Homo sapiens: one gene and its partners. The protein of the gene in region 1 purifies or fractionates together with the protein of each later gene. This does not show direct contact. Each region holds a gene or a part of one and is shown in the gene's direction. Other genes may lie near its edges.

The links.
Region 2: the proteins of FBXO38 (region 1) and SUGT1 purify together in Homo sapiens (affinity purification with mass spectrometry; 2 studies listed by BioGRID and IntAct, with this or other methods). This does not show direct contact.
Region 3: the proteins of FBXO38 (region 1) and ZXDB purify together in Homo sapiens (affinity purification with mass spectrometry; 2 studies listed by BioGRID and IntAct, with this or other methods). This does not show direct contact.

What each region holds. Positions count from the first base shown.
Region 1 is NC_000005.10:148,400,867-148,407,977, forward strand, and holds part of FBXO38 (F-box only protein 38), read left to right. Parts: intron 1-1,115; coding exon 1,116-1,279; intron 1,280-1,481; coding exon 1,482-1,647; intron 1,648-3,818; coding exon 3,819-3,956; intron 3,957-5,390; coding exon 5,391-5,528; intron 5,529-7,111. UniProt on the Homo sapiens protein: Substrate recognition component of a SCF (SKP1-CUL1-F-box protein) E3 ubiquitin-protein ligase complex which mediates the ubiquitination and subsequent proteasomal degradation of PDCD1/PD-1, thereby regulating T-cells-mediated immunity.
Region 2 is NC_000013.11:52,676,725-52,683,835, forward strand, and holds part of SUGT1 (protein SGT1 homolog), read left to right. Parts: intron 1-3,249; coding exon 3,250-3,431; intron 3,432-7,111. UniProt on the Homo sapiens protein: May play a role in ubiquitination and subsequent proteasomal degradation of target proteins.
Region 3 is NC_000023.11:57,587,366-57,595,064, forward strand, and holds the start of ZXDB (zinc finger X-linked protein ZXDB), read left to right. Parts: upstream 1-4,645; 5' UTR 4,646-4,683; coding exon 4,684-7,095; 3' UTR 7,096-7,699. UniProt on the Homo sapiens protein: Cooperates with CIITA to promote transcription of MHC class I and MHC class II genes.

The sequences.
Region 1 (7,111 bases):
TTTCTGATTTGGTTGTGAGAATAAATGAAAAAAAATGATTAACACATTGAATCGTTCAGTCATTAAAAGTTACTATACAAGAAAGTAATAAGAACTGTTATTATAATTAGAGACCAAGTAATCTCTGGTCTCTCCTTACTCTTCACTAAAGTTAGCATGTCTGGACTTTACATGTTAAATGAGATAACTTAAAAATAAAACAACTTTCAAAAAAGTATGTAAGACTTAAATATTTGGGGCCTACTTTTTGTTCTTGACAGTTAATGTTTTTCTTTGTCATTAATAAGCAGACAGTTGGCTTTCTGACCACTTTCATTAAAAATAAAAAAGCCCTTGTAACAGATTAAAATAGGATCTATATGAGACTTGTCTCCCCACTTACTTAACCAACAGCTCCTGCTGTGGAAGTAACCTGCCTCTCTCTGTTCCCATCTTGTTGATTCCTACTATGGTCTCCTGGATAGATAGCTTCCTATCAACAGCATACCCTGAGATTGGATCACTCTGGTTCTCTTAGCTAACTTGCATCTGTCTTTTTCAAAAGAATTAATTGTCTAAAATGGCGGGGGAGTAATAGTTAAACATATGACAGAGTATCAGAGTAATTATTAGAAAATGGATAGAATAATTTGAGATAGGAATTAGGTCAGAACTGTGAGCTTCCTAACGATGAGGATCATATCTTATTTATATTTTTAGTTATGTGTTCTATAGAGTCCTGAAGGTTTTACAGACGAGAGTACCCATGGGGGAGGAGGAGGGTGGTGGTGATCAGGTGGGTGGTCCCACTCCATCCACCAAATAGGTCCAAGTTATCTGGGTTAAAAGTGTGTTCTTTGTTGAAGATTTCTATGCCTTAAAAGCAACAAAAACCAAAAAGTCAATAATAAAAGCCTCCTCCATAAAGTATTAACTTAGATTAAGTGGAGTTTCTGACTCATTTCCTCTGTTACTAAAGGAGTATATTTTCTGTTATGTTTATTCAGCTTTAGTGTTAGCTTTACGGAAATTTGAAGAGGAAGTCTTTTTTAACTTTTGGTAAAAATCACGAGTGCCTAGTAAATGTTAATGAACAGAAAGATGAACCTGGCTCTAAATACTTCTGAACTTCTCAGGCTTTACAGATGCCAGTTTTCTAACACTATTAAAGAAGATGCCAGATGTTGAACAGCTATATGGCCTTCACCCTCGATACCTTGAGAGGCGAAGAGTAAGGGGCCATGAGGCTTTTAGCATTCCAGGAGTCCTAGAAGCTTTGCAGGCATGCCCAAACTTAGTGGTGAGTGCACCTGGTTGAACATTTTGGCATCAACTGTTTATGAAATAATAGACCAAAGAATGATAGACGTGTTCACTCACATGCAAATCTCATCTGTCACAAACTTTTAAGTTCCATTGTGTACTTAGCATCTTGTGGTACATAAAGCTTTGGATGCTAAACTAAAGTCTTTTCTTATGCTTGCTTTGGCATTATTTTCTAGGGTGTGGAAACTTCTCATTTGGAGTTGGTAGAATCCATTTGGACATATATGCCCCATGTTCATATTTTGGGGAAATTTCGTAATCGTAATGGAGCTTTTCCAATTCCTCCTGAAAATAAACTGAAAATTCCTATAGGAGCCAAAATTCAAACTTTACATTTAGTTGGTGAGTACATGTTTCTTGGGTCACTTGTAACTCCTTGAAATGCCATAAAATGTGAATATTCACTGAAAAAGAATAATGAGAATTTTAGAGATGGCTTTGTTGATTGATGATTGCAAAATAAATGTTTGCAAGATCTGTATAAAAATTCCGATTTCCCATTAAAGATCCACTGGTGTGAGGGAAATACTGCTTCACAAGTGTACATTCTCCATCTGAATATTCTTTGAAATTATATACCAGTAACTTCAACTTAAGTAAAAAGTGTAAATATTTTCTCAAATTTGTCACCTTTGGCTTAGGCCACTGAAAGGAATTCGGGGGTCCCTGTTAATATAGCTGGCCTTTAATATTTGTTTACTACTTTATTCTGTATATATACACACACATACACAGAGAGAGAGAGAGTATATGTGTTTTAAGCATTATTCTAGGTATTGGGGATGGTCTAAAGAAGTGGAAATTTCTGAAACTCAGGTGGTACAGGGAGAGCATCAGGAATGATAAGGAGTAGGTCTTAAATAAGACTTAGATACACAATTATGGGAGAAGAGTAAAGATTTCTAGCAACCCTTCATTTATAAGATCAGGGAGTGATATCTAGTTTGAAATTGGATTTTTAGATGTAAAAGGATTCTGTAATATCTGGAATTTATAATATAAGCTCCTTAAGGTCAAAGACTTATTTCCATATCTTTATATTTTCTACAATGCCTGTCACAGTTCATTGCAAATATAAGTACAGGGTAAGTTTTATTAAAATGCATTAATTTATGGGAATCATTTAACAGTTTAACACTGTATTATGGTGATGCAGAGGTGTGGTAAATTAATAAAAATAAACATTACCAGGAGAATGGGCAGTTATGTCCTTTGTTTATAGAGTTTGTTTGAGACAGAAAGTGGTTTGGGCCTGGGGTATACTGTCTTCTCTGCATCTGTCTCACCCTTCTTCCTTGGGTTTCCTAATCAGTACAATCAGTACTACCATCTTCATAGTATTACAATATATGCTAAATTTAACCTTTGTGACTTCTGCATCTTACATCTCAATCTGTACCTCACTTCTGCTTTTTGTCCTTTTGTCTCATCCTTAATTTTACTTCCCATTTGTTGCTATACAATGTGTGTGCATAGTTCAAACTAAATTTAACTCTGCTATTTTGAGAGGAACAAGTTAAGGGGTAATCCTTGTAGGTTACAATAAGAACATTTGGTAGAATTTAGCCTTTATAAACAACTGACCATTCAAGTACTGCAATTTTACATTCTCTAGTTATTCTTGCTAGCAGAGCTCCTATTGTCTCAAATTTAAAAATTGCATTAAACAGTTTTGCCAACTACTGTTTGTTAAATGCCATCATCCTGGATCCTTGGATTTCTTTAATAAATTTGTGTCCCTTCCTTGGCTTTTATCTTCTTTCATCCATATTTCCTGTATTTTTTCACCTCACGCTACACCTCCCTTCTTCTGGTCATGGTCCTCTGTGGATATGATTCCTAGTATTAAGCCACTCCTGGATCCCATGCATCAAATTACCTTTACCAATTTGAAATTCTAAAATAAATGACTGGCAGGTTTCTGCTTTTCTCAGAGCCATGCTGGCTGGCTTCTCCCACACATTTACAAATTCTTAAGATTCATATATTTATAGAAAACAGCTTTTAAAGTTCTGTGTTTGGCTATCTTCCAGATATCTATTTGCATATTTAAACCCATCTAGCTGACTTTGCTCTGAGAAATATAGTTCTCCTACTAGGGGGCAGTGGATGTTGGTAGTCAAATAGTAAATTTGTGTGTTCCATCTCCATCGTTATAGTTTTGCTTTCAGTAATCCATTTTCACTTTACCTCTTCTGGGAAAACGTATCCTAGAAGAGTTGTAAGATTATGAGAAAGACTTACATGTCTAAGACATAGAAATACTTTTTAAACTCTATCTTCCCATTGGCCTTTCCTAAAAAAGTTAAGTCAGTTTATGGTTTACGTAAACTGTTCTTTGTAAGCCTGTTTTAAATAAGGCAAACTTGATAGATTTTGTATAATTTGTTCGGATAAAAATCCTTGAAGGTTAAGCTGTTAATATGAAAAATAGACTCTTGAACTTATAAGCAAAATATAGTATATTTTTGTGATTTTTTTCTTGTTTGTTCTTTTTTATATTTGTGTTTTAGGGGTGAATGTTCCTGAAATTCCTTGTATCCCAATGCTAAGGCACCTTTATATGAAGTGGGTAAGACTCACTAAACCACAGCCATTTAAAGACTTCCTTTGTATCAGCTTAAGAACTTTCGTCATGAGGAACTGTGCAGGTAATGGTACACAATTATGGTGGAATTAAACATAAGTTATTCTAAAAATATCCTGAAGCAAACTCTAGCTACATTTGTAAATACAATTATATTATGCTATTACTATTTATGTCTTATAACATATTCATCTTGTGAAGATAAATGTACTTTTTGTTTTAAAGACATTAGAAAGATGATTTGTGTTTGACCTCAGCAAAAAAAAAAAAACAAAACTCAGAATATCTCTATTTTTTACGGGTACTTTTTACTTTTCCTAGGATTGTTTTATTAAATTTCAGTCTTCTTACTTTGTTTCTGGTCTCCGAATCATTCTGCATGTAAATAGTTGGCTTCCTTAATCTCCCTTAAACATAGCTTTTATGGTATTATCCTTCTAAACAGAAATCTTTAGTGTCCCTGTTGCCCTAGAGCAAGCTTGTTCAACCCACGGTCCACTGGCCACAGCCCACATGATGCCCAATACAAATTCTTAAACTTTCTTAAAACATTATGAGATTTATGCATAGGCTTTTTCTTCTTCTTCTTCTTTTTCTTTCCTGCTCATCAGCTATCTTTAATATCAAGACAATTTTTCCTCTTCCAATGTGGCCCAAGGCAATTTTTCCTCTTCCAGTGTGGCCCAGTGATGTCAAAATATTGGACACCGCTGCACTAGAGCATTAAGTGGGAACTACTCTGCTTAAGGTCATGATAACCAGGACCCCTCTTGATAACCTTATTCTGACACCTTTCCAAGATATATCTTCTTTTATCATCACATTTGACTATTCATTGTTCCCTGGTCAGCCATACAGCTTTCCATCTCAATGTCTTCTCTTATGCTGTATTATTGTTTCGTTATCCTGAGATGTGCACTTTCTTCCTCTGTTTTTGTATGCGTTCTTCAGGTTCTGCCTTTTCCAACTTACTTTTCTCCTCTTTCTTTTTCTTTTTCATGGAGTATGGCAGATCTTATTTTTACACTTGATGCAGTCTGCCTTCTTATCCTTCTATAATTACTTATGTTAGTTCTAGCTCCATGTCAACTGCAGGTTTTTTGATGGACAGGACCATATCTTTTGTGATCTTCTATAGTAGCTAATGCAACACTGGTCATAGAGATGATTAAATGATTGAGCTGTTTACTTGAGTGAAGGATCAAATTTTTATCTTGACTTTTTCCCATTAGTTAGTTTGAGTTCAAAACTATTGAGCCTTTAGAGAATTTACGGAATACTACATATCTCTACAGTGTTACTGAAAAACCTTTATGCTGAGTAAGTGTATGGTTAATAGGCTAACACTTTCATTTGTAACAAGAACCTGATTTCAGAGAGCCAATTTGGCTGTCATTTTAAGACTTAGAGTTTATAAGTTATACATGTCTTTCACTGATTTGAAATTCATTTTAAGGCACTTTACATTGTTCTATCAAAGATTTTTTTTTTTTTCCAGGACCCACAAATTCCTTGAAATATGTCCCTTTAGTAACAGGCTTAGCCTCTGCCCGAAACTTGGAACACTTAGAAATGGTTCGAGTTCCTTTCCTTGGAGGTCTTATCCAACATGTTGTTGAAGACAGTTGGAGATCAGGTATTCATTTTCTTTAATTACTAAATATTTTTTAAAAATCAACTTAAAATAATCATTAAGCTTTTATTTAACTTCCCTGGCAAGTCTTTAAAAAGAAAATGCTCGTCAGTAACTGCTTTCTTTGTTGTATTTGATGGACAGTAAGTAACCATGAGCATAGCTAGTATTCATTTTCTTTTGGTGCACATTAAACTTTCTTAAAATAGACAGTAGAGTGATAAGACATGTTTTCTGGCTTGTTTTGACTTTTATGTAGCTAATAATACCTCCTCTTATGTATGGAATCTTTCTTAGAAATGTTAACAGGGATTTCTAGCGTTCTTTGGTGATGTTTTACAACTTGTACAGCCGAGGCTTCCAAAAAAAATTTAGGCATTAATAATGTTAATCTCTATCACATAATACTTTATAATATAAAAAATACTTTTATACATATTACTTGGATATTGATTTACCCATCAGATGATGATATTTAAAAGAAAAAAGTTGTTCTGTGTATACTTAACTATAGATAAATAATACGTAACAGAATGTGCTTTGTGTTAAACATCTCATTGCAGAAAAAAAATAGTGGTTTAGCAAAATGGATGATTAATAGTTGGAAACCAAAAACTTAACTTTGGCTCTCTAAAATAAAATGGAAAGTCATCAAGTACCATTGTTAACAAACAGACATTATAGTTAATACTGTTGAAATATAATGAAGAGTAAACACTACATTTCTAGACATTTTGTCAGTCAAGTGTGGTATAAGTGTACTTTATTACATTTAGCCAGTGGGATGAAACAACCCCTTAAAACCAACAGTATTTTGATTGATGGCGATAGTTAACAAGATAAAAGTCAAAAACGAAAAGAAGGCTACTGGTGTATTCACTAGAGAGAAGACCTGTAGAGAGGTGCTAAAAGCTGAGTTTGTATAAAGGTCCTAAAAGAAAAACAGAGACTTTTCTTCTCTAATCAGTTTTTAAGGGTGACCCTGCCTTGTATTTTACTCAAGAAGTCAACATACCTCACACAAAAATTTATTCTAGATGGGTCATAGATTCAGATGAGAACAATTTTGAAATGAAATTTAAAAAAATAACTTAGAAGAATGTCTTGTTGACCTTGAGTACACAAAGACATCTTAAACAGGACACCAAAAAGCATTTACCATAAAGAAAATATTGATAAATTGTACCAAATTAAAATTAAAATTTTTTTTTTTTTGTCCATCAAAAGGCATGATTGAGAGAGTGAAAAACCGGCCGGGCGCAGTGGCCCACGCCTGTAATCCCAGCACTTTGGGAGGCCGAGGCGGGCGGATCATGAGGTCAGCAGATCGAGACCATCCTGGCTAACGTGGTGAAACCCCGTCTCTACTTAAAAATACAAAAAATTAGCCCGTCGTGGTGGCGGGCACCTGTAGTCCCAGCTACTCGGGAGGCTGAGGCAGGAGAATGGCGTGAACCTGGGAGGCAGAGCATGCAGTGAGCCTAGATCGCACCACTGCACTCCAGCCTGGGTGAGAGAGTGAGACTCTGTCTCAAAAAAAAAAGAGAGAGAGAGAGTGAAAAACCAAGCTACAGAATGGGAGAAGC
Region 2 (7,111 bases), on another chromosome or scaffold:
ATCTAATTGCCTGGAATTTGCAGGGCTTTACAGGGTAAGGTATCTACCCCATTTCTTATTGCTAATTTAGAGATGGACGCAAATAGGTGGTAAATGCCAAAGGAAAGTCTAGGAGAAGAGTAGAAAACCAGGCTTCATTGTATATATAACCCTGTAAGAAACAGAACTTTGTGTTGAGGTCAATTTTAAGTATGTGCAATAACTAGGTAAGAATTTTTCTAGTGGACAAATTCACAGCACACTCAGAACTACAACCTAAGATTATATTTTATAGCAATAGCTTCATTAATGAGTGGAGGGAAATTTCTTTTTATTGGAAGTAATGGTCTGATTTAATGACTGAAACAAGCTAACATGTGTCTCAGCTTTTTCTGATTTTGACTGCTTTCTTCTGTAACAGAAAACACATTTCCTTGTGGCACCTTTTAGAAAACACTGAGTTATTCAACAGATCATTTGTGTGTGTGTTTGTGTGTGTGTGTATAGTTATTTCTTAAGAAATAATTTTGGATGTTTAGAAATTTCAAAAATAAGAGATTCTCATATAGCTTTCACCCAGTTTCCCCCATTGATAGTGTCTTAACTAGTCCAATGATTACCTCTTAAGTAGTCTGTGGTATAATTTTCAAAATCAGGGTATTAACACCAACAGATACTTTTTAAGGACTGAAGTATATCTAGTTGGTATTTAAGGTATTTAAGCATCTGCTTCACACTTTATTTGAAAGATGTATGTGTTTCTTTTAGGACTGACTCCAATAGATTTTGAGGCTGAGGTTTATATGTAGCTGAAAGCTTTAAAAAATATATAATCACTTTAAATGTAGTATCTTACTTAATTCTAACAGCCCTGCATAACAGGCAGCCCCTTAGTATTCCTCCCATTTTGCAGGCTCAGAAAAGTTAAGCTCAAGATTATCCCTCAGTTCTCATTGTCTAGGACTAAAATCTAGGTCTTCTCAGTTGGGTCCAGTTATTCTGTTAACCCGTTGTCTACTTGTTGCATACTGCTTGTTGTTGCATTTTCTAACAATGGAAACAGTCTTTGCCGACATGAGTATCTAGTAGTTATTTGATATTATAGTGAATGAGCAGGGAGGTTAGATTACTCATCTCTCAGTAGTTCATCTGCCATCTCCAGGTGTTAAAAGTTTTTCTGAGATTAAAGATCAAGGCTTTTTAGTGTTACAGTTACCATGTTTTTTCTAAACTCAACACCTTAGATATTCAAGATGATACTCTTCCTGTCCTGTTTTTGTAAGAAATTAATATACTTGTCAGATTCCTGTGTATTGCAAGCTGGAGACTGTAGATAAGGGCAAGTCACTTAACCTATCTGACCCAGCTTGCTTATCTACAAAATAGAGATTAAAACCTCTGTTCTCATCCTTCCTGGGAGTCAGCATTAGGATTAATTAAATCCATATTTCCCAGGCTCTTAACTTACCATGGCACGCATTTTTTGTTTTACCTGGCTACTAGTGAAAATGTACAAAGATAGAAGGATATCTAGTAGAAGGAAGGTGGATAGGATTTTCAAAACAATATATTTGGCCCTGAAAAAAAACTATGTGTTGGTGTTGTGTGTGTTGTTTTGTTTTGAGGAGGAATGGGCAGGGAGAAAGTCGGTTTACAAGTGAAGAGAAAGCGTAGAAAAACAGTGGATGTTAGTTTCTCAGCTATTTTGACAAAAGGGATGTAGAGAGCAGTATTGGGAGGAACATTTAGATTAGTACTAATGTGTCCTAATACATACTGATGGGGAAATTTTGAATTGGGTTTTTTGAAAACTGTAGCTCTTTTGTCCAACACAGTAGCTGCTAGCCACATGTTACCTGTTGAGCACTTGAAATATGACTAGTCTGCATTGAGATGATGTGCTATGTGAAATATATGCTACAGTTTGAAGAGTTAGTATGAAAAAAAGAATATAAAATATCTTCATTTTTTTTGTTGGTTTTTTTTTTTTTTTAAGAGAGAGTCTTGCTGTGTCACCCAGGCTGGAATGCAGTGGCACTGTCATGGCTCAGTGTAGCCTCAACCTCCTGGACTCAAGCAGTCCTCTACCCCAACCTTCCGAGTAGCTGGTACTGCAGGCATGTGCCACCACGCCCAGCTAATTATTATTATTTTTTTTTCATAGAGATGGGCTCTCACTATGTTGCCCAGGCTGGTCTCACACTTCTGGCCTCAAGCAATCCTCCTACTTGGCCTCCCAAAGTGCTGGGATTATAGGTGTGAGCCCCCATGCCCGGCCTCTGTTGGTTTCAAGTCAATATGATACTATATTTGATATATCAGGTTAAATAAAATGTATTATTAAACTGCATTTCACCTGATTCTTTTTAGTAATGTAGTTACTAGGAAGTTTTAAATTATATATGTGACTCACATTTGAGGCTGTCATTATATTTTCATTGGATAGTCAACAGAGCTGCTCCTATAGCTACTAGGTTGTCTAGTTATTTTCTAATTATTTGTGTGCCAAGATCTTGATGCCTTTGGTCTTTGGAGCAATCTTGGCAGTACCCCGAGCCCCTGGGCCAGTAGCCTCTCTCGCTGCAAGCAGCTCTGTTTACTCCAGTGTGCCCTACAAATACTATTATTTGCTAGGTGTATGGGATGTGGGCATTGAACTTTAGATCATCAAGTGTAGTACTTTAAACATTTAGAAATTACTTACTGTTATTGCCTATTAAAATAATCTTACTTTTTTGATGGGAGAGTATGGAGTGGCATGGATGATTATTTATATTTTCAGGCTATTTATACTCTGAAAGATACTAAGTACTTTAGAAAAAGTCACATTTTTAACATTTATTAAAATCTTAGTTACAAAAGATTTCTTAGGCATCCTTTAAAAAATTTCATTTTTAGAATTGTTCGTACTGTCTCTGCAACTTTTCTGAAAACATAAAAGTTCTGTATACTTTTCATCTAGTTTCTGTTATCAACATGAAGAATCTGCTTTTAATCTAATTTTGTATAGCATATCAAAAGTTTACACTTTATTGAGTTATTTTGCTCAAAAGAAATCCCCAGATTTTACATTATGGTAACTGACTCAGTTTTTAGAAATGTGAATTTTGTTATTGACCTATATACCAGAAAGACACTTATTGCATACCTGAAATTCAGTAACCTAAACTGTTTGCTAAGATGTTCCATATACATGGTCACAAAGTTTACATATTCTCGACATAATTGAAACATGTTGATTAATTACTTCTGCCTTTTTTTACTTCATAGATGTAAAGAACCTATATCCATCATCATCTCCTTATACAAGAAATTGGGATAAATTGGTTGGTGAGATCAAAGAAGAAGAAAAGAATGAAAAGTTGGAGGGAGATGCAGCTTTAAACAGATTATTTCAGCAGATCTATTCAGATGGTTCTGATGAAGTGAAACGTGCCATGAACAAATCCTTTGTAAGAATATAAACTTAAAGAAATATATATGGGAGCAAATTTTACATATTTTAAACGAGAAAATTGGTAATGTGAGACCAAATTGCGTGTACTATAGCTGGGAGAACTTTTTGAATAAGGTCTGTCTGAACGTTTCTTTTTGCTCTAAGAGTAATTTTTGAGGAAGTTGAAAACTTATGGAAGAGATGAGAAACAAGTGGTTTATCTTAAATAGGTATTTTTTATCAGTGAGTTAGATTGATATGGAGTCATCTCACTTGGATTTATCCCAGTAGCTGAGTGAACTTCTGTTGTTTCCCTTCTAGACTCATATGTAGCCTCAGTGTTAGAGATGAAGAATATAGATACGAAACTTTTCAGAATAGTGTTTGCAAGTAGAAGGTGCACGTTATTCATTGGTTTAACAACTCTCTTGATTAAGAAAATTCAGGCTTTTTGTCAGGGCAGCATAAATACCTAAATTAGACCTCAAAATTTTAGTAATAATTCGTCATTGTATATTTAGCTTGCAGTTGTAATCATGTGACTTTTATTAATACCAGTAGCTCTGGAAATATGACTCTTTTAAGACATATTTACAGTAGAAAGTTAAAATTAGTATTTTAATTTAATATTTAGTTAATGTGGTTGAGGCTTAGGTATTTCACACTTAAGAAATCTGTGGTAATTGGTCATGATTGTGCTTTTCACAGTTTATTTATTTAGAGACAAGGTCTCACTCTGTTGCCCAGGCTTGAGTACAGTGGCGTGATCTCGGCTCACTGCAGCCTCTGTCTGCCGGGCTCAAGTGATTTTCCTACCTCAGCCTCTGCAGTAGCTGGGACTATAGACATGCACCACCACGCCTGGCTACTTTATTTCTTGTAGAGGTGGGGTTGCGCCACGTTGCCCAGGCTGGTCTCGAACTCCTGGCTTCAAGCAATCTAGCCGCCTCAGCCTCCCAAAGTGCTGGGATTACAGGCGTGAGGCACCTCAACCAGCCTCACTATTGATTAAAAAATTTTTTTTCATCACTTTTGGGAGACTGAGGTGGGAGGATCACTTGAGCTAAAGATCTTGAGATTAGCCTGGGCAACATAGAGAGACCCTATCTCTACAAAAAAAAAAAAAAAATTAGCTAGGCCTGGTGGCATGTGTCTGTGGTCTTAGCTACTTGGGAAGGTGAGGTGGGAGGATCTCTTGAGCCTGGGTGGTCAAGGTTGCAGTGAGCTGTTTTTTTGTGCCACTGAACTACAGCCTGGGCAACAGAGACCCTGTCTCAAAAAAAAAAAAAAAGTCTTCATTAAACTTTTAGTTTTGAGATAATTGTAGATTGACATGCAATCCTAAGAAATGAGATTCTTTGTACCTTTTACAAAGTTTCCATTGATGGAAACATTTTGTCAAAACTATGCTACAACATCACAACCATGATACTGACAGTTAAGATAGGGAACCTTTAATCCCAGTGCTTTGGGAGTCTGAGGCCACAGGATCCCTTGAGGCTAGACCAGCCTGGACAATATGGTAAGTTCTGGTCTCTACAAGAAATTTAAAAGCTACCTTGGCATGATGTTGTGCCCCTGTCAGCTCAGGCGTCTGCGGCAAGAGTATTGTTTGAGCCCAGGAGTTCAAGGTTGCAGTGAGCTATGATCGTGCCACTACACTTAGCTTGGGCAGCAAAGTGAGACCCTATCTCTTTAAAAAAAAAAAAAAGAGAGAGAGAGAGATAGAACATTTTCATGGATTCCAAGGATCCCTTATGTTGCTATCTTATGGCCATACTAACCCCACCCCCACCCTTCCATGATCCCTGATGATCACAAATCTGGCAATCTTTGTCAGATATGTAGTTTACACATATTTTCTCCCAGTATGTAGTTTTCATTTTCTTAATAGGGTCTTTCATAGAACCAAAATATTTCATTTTGATTAAGTCTAATTTACCGCTTTTTATGGATCATGCTTTTAGTTTCAGGTCTTATTAACTCTTTGCCTAGTCCTAGATCTCAAAGACTCTCTCCTATTTAAAAAATAAATAAAAGTAATATTGTTTTACATATTACATTTATTTTTTATTTAGAGACAGGGTCTCATTCTGTCACCCAGGCTGAAGTACAGTGGCACAGTCACAGTTCACTGTAACCTCAAAGTCCTGGGCTCAAGTGATCCTTATGCCTCAGCCTCCCAAGTAGATGGGACTACACATCCATGCTGCCATGCCTGGCTAATTTTTAAAATTTTTTGTAGAGGTGGGGGTGTCTCCGTATTGCTTAGGGTGGTCTCGAACTTCTGACCTCAAGCAGTCCTTCGGCCTTGGCTTCCTGAAGTGCTAGAGTTACAGGCGTGAGCCACAGCACCTGGCCTACATATTACATTTAAGTCTGTGATGCATTTTGAATTTTTATGTCAAGTGTGAGATTTAACTTGAGGTTCCTTTTTGTGGGGTGGATAGTATGTTCGGGTGTTCTGGCACCTATCTTTTCTCATTGAATTGCTTTTGCACCTTTCTTAAAAATCAGTTGAGCGTATTTGTGTGAGTCTATTTCTAAGTTCCCCACTGTGTTAGATTGAGCTGTATGTGATCTATATGTATGTTCCTCTGTCAGTCCCACTGTCTTAAGCTGTAGCTGTTTAAGTCTGAAATTGGGCAGACTCATTCCTCCTACTTTATCCTTTATTTTCACAATTGTTTTTAGATATTCTAACTCATTTGTCTTTCCATGTAAATTTTAGAATAAAGTGATTATATATAATTTTGGTGTTCATTACTAGAATCTAGACATACAGTTAATTTTATGTTTATCTTGTATTCTGTGACATTGCTGGACTCAGTTCTAGGAGTATTTTTGGATAGATTGTCATTTTTTTAATGTGGACAATCATCTTCAAATATGGAGGTTTTATTTATCTGCAGATACGGAGAGTTTTATTTCTCCCTTTTCTATCTGTATGCCTTTTATCTCCTTTTCTTGCTATATTTCACTGGCTGCAACTTCCGCACTGTGTTGAATAAGAGTAGTGAGAGTGGACATCCTTGCCTTGTTTCCCATTTTAAGGGAAAAGTATCTGTTGTTTCATCATTAAGTATAATGTTAACTGTAAATTTTTGGTAGATGATCTTTGTCAAGTTATGAAAGTTCTGTTGTATTCCTATTTTTCTGAAATTTTTTTATCATTAACTTTCAATATTAACTTTTTGTCAGATGTTTTGTCTGTGTTGATTGATAGGATTATATGATTTTTCTTCCTTAGCCTGTTAATATGGTGATTTTATATGATTAATATGATTGATTTTCAAGTATTGAGACAGTCTTGCATGAGCCCTACTTTGTCATATAGTGTATCTCTTAATTCTATCTTCTAATGTTTTGTTATGGGTTATTGTGTCTATATTCATGAGGAATATGAGTCTAATTTTCTTTTTGTGCTATCTTTGGTTTGGCATCAGAGTAATACTTCATAAAATGAATTAGGAAGCATTGCATCCTCTTCTGTTTTTTAGAAGATATTGTGTATAATTGGTGTTAACTTTTCTTAAGTATTTGGTAGAACTCACCAGTGAAACGGTCTGGGCCTGGAGATTTCTTTATTAGGAGATTTACAGTTATGAATTTAGTTAACCTAAAAGTTTTTATAGGACTGTTCCAATTATCTATTTCATATGGGTGACTTGTGGTTTGTTTCTGATAAATTTATCC
Region 3 (7,699 bases), on another chromosome or scaffold:
TCAACTAAAACCCCTGAAATAGCCAGGCCCGTTACTTTAACCATTTGTATATCTTTAGGGGGTACAAGTACATGGATAAGTACCATGTACTTGTTGTTACATGGATATATTACCCAGTGGTGAAGTCTAGGCTTACCAGAGCAAAAACAGGGTGGTAGATAATCTCCCTTGTGCAATCAACAACTATAACCCGGCAGGTAGGGTGCCTACTATTGATACTGACTACAGAGAGTGTGGACTCCTCTAACCTGATACAGGATATGAAGCCAGTTATCAATTTATTACCTCTCAGCTCCAAATTCACCCTTCAATATATATTCTTTGATAATAGAGGGATTCTTTAAGCATCTCTCCTTTAAAGTAACATCGAAGAGCATAATGTTACACTTACTTAATAGGGGGCTCTGTAGGGACAGACACTGAAAGAGGAAGTGGTACTTCTATGATTTCTGGTTCTCAGAGTTGTGGACGTGAGGACATTCAAGAAGCTTTGTCTCAGGCCTGGGCCCAGAACAACTGTCTCTCAGCAAACCTGCAGTCCTGCTGTGCCCTAATGATCAGCTTCTTGTGGCCTTCTTGATAGGGACATGCTGTTCTCCAAGTCATCTGCCTACTGCTTCTCTCTGCTCACTTGCTCCACAGCCACACACACACACACACACACACACACACACACACACACACGACCAGGTTCATGTAGTCCTGTCAATACTGCAGCCATCTCAACACTGAGACCCCACCCTAATCCTGTGCATGGAGCATTGTTTACTCCAGGCCTCCAACTGAGCCAGGCCCCCCAACCCCTACTTCACACCCACTTACTAGCCACCAGCTATTGCTTGTCCACACTACCGTGCTTCAAAGGGGGGCTTCTTGCTTCCTCTGTGATCGTAGACCAGTTCTAGCTCTGCAGACCAGCTCAGGTACTGGCAAACCAGTGGAACTTCTCTGCCATCCAGTGGGTTCTTCTCCAATTAGGTATGAAATCCAGCCTTGGGGAGAAGCTTTCATTCTAAGTTTGTCTTTCCTTGGATACTCTCCCCCAGTCCCAGAAAACCCCATATAGAGTTGTCTTGTATTCTATATAAGATATTTTATCATAGTTTAATGATTCTTTATATTAAACCTTCTCTTTCTAGATCACTGTGTGCTTTCTATCTCTGGATTGAATCTATATTGCTACAGAACACAACATCTACAGCAAGCATCATTCTTAATGGAGAATCACTGAAAGCTTTCTCTTTAAGAGCTTCATCAAGTAAGGATGTCCACTATCACCACTTCTATTCAATAGTTTACTGGGGGTGGTGATGGGGTCCCAGACAGAGCAGTAGAGCAAGAAAAAGAAATAAGATATTTGGAAAGGAAGAAGAAAGACTGGCACTATTTACAGATGATATGACAGTGTACATAAAATTCCACAAAGTATTACAGACAAATTATTAGAATCAATAGAAGAGTTTATACGCTTGTAGGATAAAATCTTAATGAACAAAAGTCAATTGCATCCTATTTATTTACCAGAAACAAATTTAGACAGTAAAAATTCCAAACAGGATTTGCACAATATGAAGTGCCTAGGACAAAAAAGTTGCCTTTTGGGAAAAATATAAAGTATTACTTGGGCACATTAAAGGAGACCTTATTAAAAGGAGAGACAGACCAAAGCCATGAACCAAACTTTCAATATTGAGAAGTCAAATCTAAAATATCAGCACAATATGAATTAGAACCCCAAACTAGCTGTTGGTTGAAGTTTTTATGATGAGTTTATAATTTAAATGGAATTGAAATGGGCCAAAAGTAGCCAAGACACTTTTGAAGAAAGATGTAGAATTTACTGCCTTATCCAAATATCAGAATTGACTATGGATCTGTAGTAATTAAGACAGTGTGATATTTCAAACAAATAGGGCCGAGCACTTAATAGCGAGTATAGGAACTAGCCCACATATGGGTAGATACTTGATTTATGGCACTGTAAATCAGTTGGCAAAAGGCAGACTTTTCAATAAGTGGTTCACTGAGAAAACTGGATATTCAAACAAATAAATAAATAAATAAATAAATGGAACCCCACTCAACACAATATACAAACATCAATTGCAGGTGGATTAAGACCTGACTGTGAAGGGCAATAGCATACGTATTTTGGAAGAAAATATAGAAAACGCTTTCATGGCCCAGGGTTTCTTAAAACAGAAAAGATTTCTTAAAACAGATTTCTTAAAACAAAAACACACTAACCATCAGGAAAAGAATGATGAATTTGACTATATTATAATTAAGATCTTCTGTTCACAAAACACAGCACAAAGCAATGGGAAATACAAACAGAACAAGGGAATATTTTGGCCACAGGTATGGACTAGTATTTAAAATATTTAACAGGCTCATTAAGTCAGTAAGTACTAGATGAACAATAGAATAGAAACATGGGTTAAAAGAGGTAAATTTGAATAGGCCTTCTTCGGAGTAGACACTCCAAAAGGCTCATAAACACGAAAATGTGCTAAAGCTTACTAGTAATTTGGGTATTGCCCACCAGTAGACTGGCAAAATTTAAATTCTGGCAATACTTGGTGTGGGTGAAGATGTGGAGCAGTAGGGGCTCTCTGTGCTGCTGGTGGGATTGACAGCTTGCCCAATCACTACAGAGAACAATTTGGCATCATCTAGTAAAGCTCAGGATATCCATACCCTATGGCCCTGTGATTCTATTCTTGGATATATACCCTAGAGAGATTTTTACACATGTGTCCCATGAGAAATGTGCAAGAATGTTCATAATAATCGCTGAAAAATAGAAGCAATCCTAATGTTCATCTGCTGTAGAATGGAGTGGTATAATCATACCATAATCACTTTGCTATAAGCATATGCTGGAACGACAGTCGATGGAGACAAAGGATCTACTTACTTATAACTATTATGAACAACATGGATGAGTCTCAAGTATAATACAGAGTGAAAGAAACAAGTTATAAAAGGAAACTTGCCGTATGATTCCATTTATACAACTTCGTATCAACTCTATTGTTTACGGATGCGTACAAAAGTGATAAAGCTATAAAGGAAAGCAGTGAAATGATTATTACAAAGTCAGGGCAATGACTATATTCATATAGGAGAGTGTGGGTTGTGATTGGGAGGAGTACAGCGGCTGTATTCTGGAAGGCTGGCAGTGGTCTATTGCTTGACCTTGGTCCTGGTTACACAGGTGTCTGCTTTTGTAAAATAATCTAAACGATACAAATATGTTTTATGCACTCTTCTATACCTCAGATTTGAAAAATGCTTCCACCAGAAAAAGTAATAGAAAGAAAAGTATGTGGAGTAGACATTTTGATGAGGTTCAAATAGTTATGGATGAATAGCTTGATTTTCAAGAGACCAAGTGTCCACTGTCATTAAAAGAGGGCGAGAGAGCTGGGAGTATTTAAACAACAGGTTACACCCCGCTCCCCCACCACCACCAATCTAGTCATTACTCTAAGCTTTCTTATCTCAGATATTTCACCCTATATTTGTGTCAATTCCCAACTCAGTCGTAACGGACAAAATGAAGGATTGTCATCATCATTAATAAGATCATTAGGCACCACAGGCCCAGCAAGCCTGGGCCACCACACTTAAATGTGAACAGGTACACCAGGTTGATTGGACAAGATCGTCTGTGCCTTTTACTTGGCAGAATCCATTGCAGTGACTCAGGATTTAACCTAAACACATTTAACTGAAACTCCTGCCCAGAGACCTCCACGTGCTGGAGAAGGCAGAGTAAACTGAGGAATGAATGCCCTCATTGTGCTGTGAGAGCAGACATGAAATTTATCACAGTACAACCGATGGTGGAAGGGCAAAAGTTGGTTTAGGTTGTGCACTGTATAGGGAGAAGCCAGGAGAAGGTTGGGTTTTTTCCAGATTTCAGTGTAAATTGTTTCATCCTCCAGACTTTGAATTTCTAGGCTGAAGAGTGCTAACCTGTTTTGGCCGCATCTCTCACTCATTCTAATGTCTGTATCAGCAAGACAAAATTTGAACTATGCGGCAAATTGTACCGAAGACTTTGCTCAAGATAATTGTGAATATGGAAGTTGTCCCGCGGGGAGGTGGGAAGGGGAAGGACATTTTCAGCAGAACTGCCAGCGCTATGGTGGTTTAATGCTGACACAGAGACAGTTTTTTCTCTCAGGAATTGTCTTTCATCCATCAGTCCAGCCAGCCAGCCAGCCAGCAAATTTTAACACACAGAAAGTACGAAGCAACATATCTAACACTGGGAGGGGCTGGGGTGTGTTTATTTGGGTATATACAATGAGTCATGGATTAAAATTGCTTCCAGCGGATAGATACCTAGGTGTTCCACAGCATTACTGAACAAGCTGTCGTCATTTCCCCATTACCTCAGAAGACCCCCTTAATTACTTACTTATATTAACTGTAGAACGTATTTATGCATACCAGGCTCTACCTCTGGGCTTTCTATTCTGTTCCAGAGACCCAGTACCAGAATATTTAAATCACTGTGGCGTTAAATACGTTTTAATATCTGATAGGGCCAGTTTCTGCGCATTGCACATTTTTTTTTCCCCTTTCAGGAACGTGTTCAGGCCCGCGGCAGGGGGCGGGATCGCGCCTCCTCCTCGGCTCTGGTTCCAGCCGAGCCTCTCGGACGCAGAGATGGAAATCCCGAAGCTGCTCCCGGCTCGCGGGACACTACAGGGCGGCGGCGGCGGCGGTATCCCCGCGGGTGGCGGCCGAGTCCACCGAGGCCCTGACTCGCCGGCTGGCCAGGTCCCCACGCGCCGCCTCCTGCTGCTCCGGGGCCCCCAAGATGGCGGGCCCGGGCGGCGGCGCGAGGAGGCCAGCACGGCATCACGGGGCCCTGGCCCAAGCCTGTTGGCGCCGAGGACCGATCAACCTAGCGGCGGCGGCGGCGGCGGCGGCGACGACTTCTTCCTGGTGCTGCTTGACCCGGTGGGTGGCGACGTGGAGACCGCGGGCTCCGGTCAGGCCGCAGGGCCTGTGTTGAGGGAGGAGGCCGAGGAGGGCCCGGGGCTCCAGGGGGGCGAGAGCGGCGCGAATCCCGCGGGGCCCACTGCGCTAGGCCCCCGCTGCCTGTCCGCGGTTCCCACTCCGGCCCCGATCTCCGCCCCCGGCCCCGCCGCGGCCTTCGCGGGCACAGTCACTATCCACAACCAGGACCTGCTGTTGCGCTTTGAGAACGGCGTCCTCACCCTGGCCACGCCCCCACCACACGCCTGGGAGCCAGGGGCCGCTCCTGCCCAGCAGCCCGGGTGTCTGATCGCCCCGCAAGCTGGGTTCCCGCATGCCGCGCACCCGGGTGACTGCCCAGAGCTGCCGCCAGACCTCCTGCTAGCTGAGCCGGCCGAACCCGCGCCAGCTCCGGCGCCTGAGGAGGAGGCGGAGGGCCCGGCCGCCGCCCTGGGCCCCCGCGGACCGCTGGGCTCCGGCCCAGGCGTGGTGCTGTACTTGTGCCCCGAGGCGCAGTGCGGGCAAACCTTCGCCAAGAAGCACCAGCTGAAGGTGCACCTGCTGACGCACAGCAGCAGCCAGGGCCAGAGGCCCTTCAAATGCCCCCTGGGTGGCTGCGGCTGGACCTTCACCACCTCTTACAAGCTCAAGAGGCACCTGCAGTCGCACGACAAACTGCGGCCCTTTGGCTGCCCGGCAGAGGGCTGTGGCAAGAGCTTCACCACAGTGTACAACCTCAAGGCGCACATGAAGGGCCATGAGCAGGAGAACTCATTCAAATGCGAGGTGTGCGAGGAGAGCTTCCCCACGCAGGCCAAACTCAGCGCCCACCAGCGCAGCCACTTCGAACCGGAGAGGCCTTACCAGTGCGCGTTTTCTGGCTGCAAGAAGACATTTATCACAGTGAGTGCTCTGTTTTCCCATAACCGCGCCCATTTCAGGGAACAGGAACTGTTTTCCTGCTCTTTTCCTGGCTGCAGCAAACAATATGACAAGGCTTGTAGGCTGAAAATTCACCTGCGGAGTCACACCGGCGAGAGACCTTTCCTTTGTGACTTTGATGGCTGTGGCTGGAACTTCACTAGCATGTCCAAACTCTTAAGGCACAAAAGAAAGCACGACGATGACCGGAGGTTCATGTGCCCTGTGGAAGGCTGTGGGAAATCTTTCACGAGGGCGGAACATCTGAAAGGCCACAGCATAACCCACCTGGGCACAAAGCCTTTCGTGTGTCCTGTGGCAGGCTGCTGTGCCAGGTTCTCTGCTCGCAGTAGCCTCTACATTCACTCCAAGAAACACCTGCAGGATGTGGACACTTGGAAAAGCCGTTGCCCGATCTCCTCTTGTAATAAACTCTTCACATCCAAGCACAGCATGAAGACGCACATGGTTAAAAGGCATAAGGTGGGCCAGGATCTCTTAGCTCAGCTAGAAGCAGCAAATTCTCTCACACCCAGCAGTGAACTTACCAGCCAGAGACAGAATGATCTCAGTGATGCAGAGATAGTGTCTCTCTTCTCTGATGTACCTGACAGTACTTCTGCTGCATTGCTGGACACAGCATTGGTGAACTCTGGAATCTTGACTATTGATGTGGCTTCTGTGAGCTCGACTCTGGCAGGGCACCTCCCTGCTAATAATAATAATTCCGTAGGGCAGGCTGTGGACCCTCCGTCCTTGATGGCCACCAGCGACCCTCCTCAAAGTCTGGATACCTCTCTCTTTTTTGGAACGGCGGCCACTGGTTTTCAGCAGAGCTCCTTAAATATGGATGAGGTCTCAAGTGTAAGTGTGGGGCCATTGGGATCTCTGGACTCTTTGGCCATGAAAAACTCCAGTCCAGAGCCTCAGGCTTTGACACCCAGCAGTAAGCTAACAGTGGACACAGATGCTCTGACTCCTTCGAGCACCCTTTGTGAAAACAGTGTCTCAGAACTACTGACACCAACCAAAGCGGAGTGGAACGTACATCCTGACTCTGACTTCTTTGGACAGGAGGGAGAAACCCAGTTTGGATTCCCCAATGCAGCAGGAAACCATGGTTCTCAGAAAGAAACAGATCTTATCACTGTGACTGGCAGCTCATTTTTGGTATGAACCAACTCTATTCATTCCTCATCATGTGGCTTACTTTTATTACAGTCAATTTTGAGGATATTCTGGACTAAATATTTAAGTGCAGTCATTTCTTTTTGGTTTGCAAAAAGAGCACAGCCCTGGACTACAAGTTTGGAGATTTAAATTCTGATCTTGAGTTTGGAACTGACAAGTTGTGTGACCCTGAGCAAGTCAGTTAACCTATCTGAGCCTTAATTTCCTTATTTATAAATTGAGGTGGTTTGAATAGATTGCTTTTAAGGTCTTTCTGCTCTGTGATTCCTTGATAATACATTTCTTTCCTTGAAAAATATGAGGACGTTTTTCAGTGATGTGGCATGCGTTTTTTTTTAACTGCCCCCCCAGCCCTGACATGTTCTTTTTTTGGCAAACATACATAATGTTACATCATACTATGATGAACATCCATGTACTTTTCACTCAATTTCAGCAATTATGAATCCATGAACAATCTTTTTTAACTTAGCCTCACTCACTCCCCATGTTCTAGTATTATTTTGTAACAAATAGCAGACATCTGATCATTTTATCCATAAATATTCTTTATATATCTCTGAAAGCTATGGGATGATATGGAAAAAAA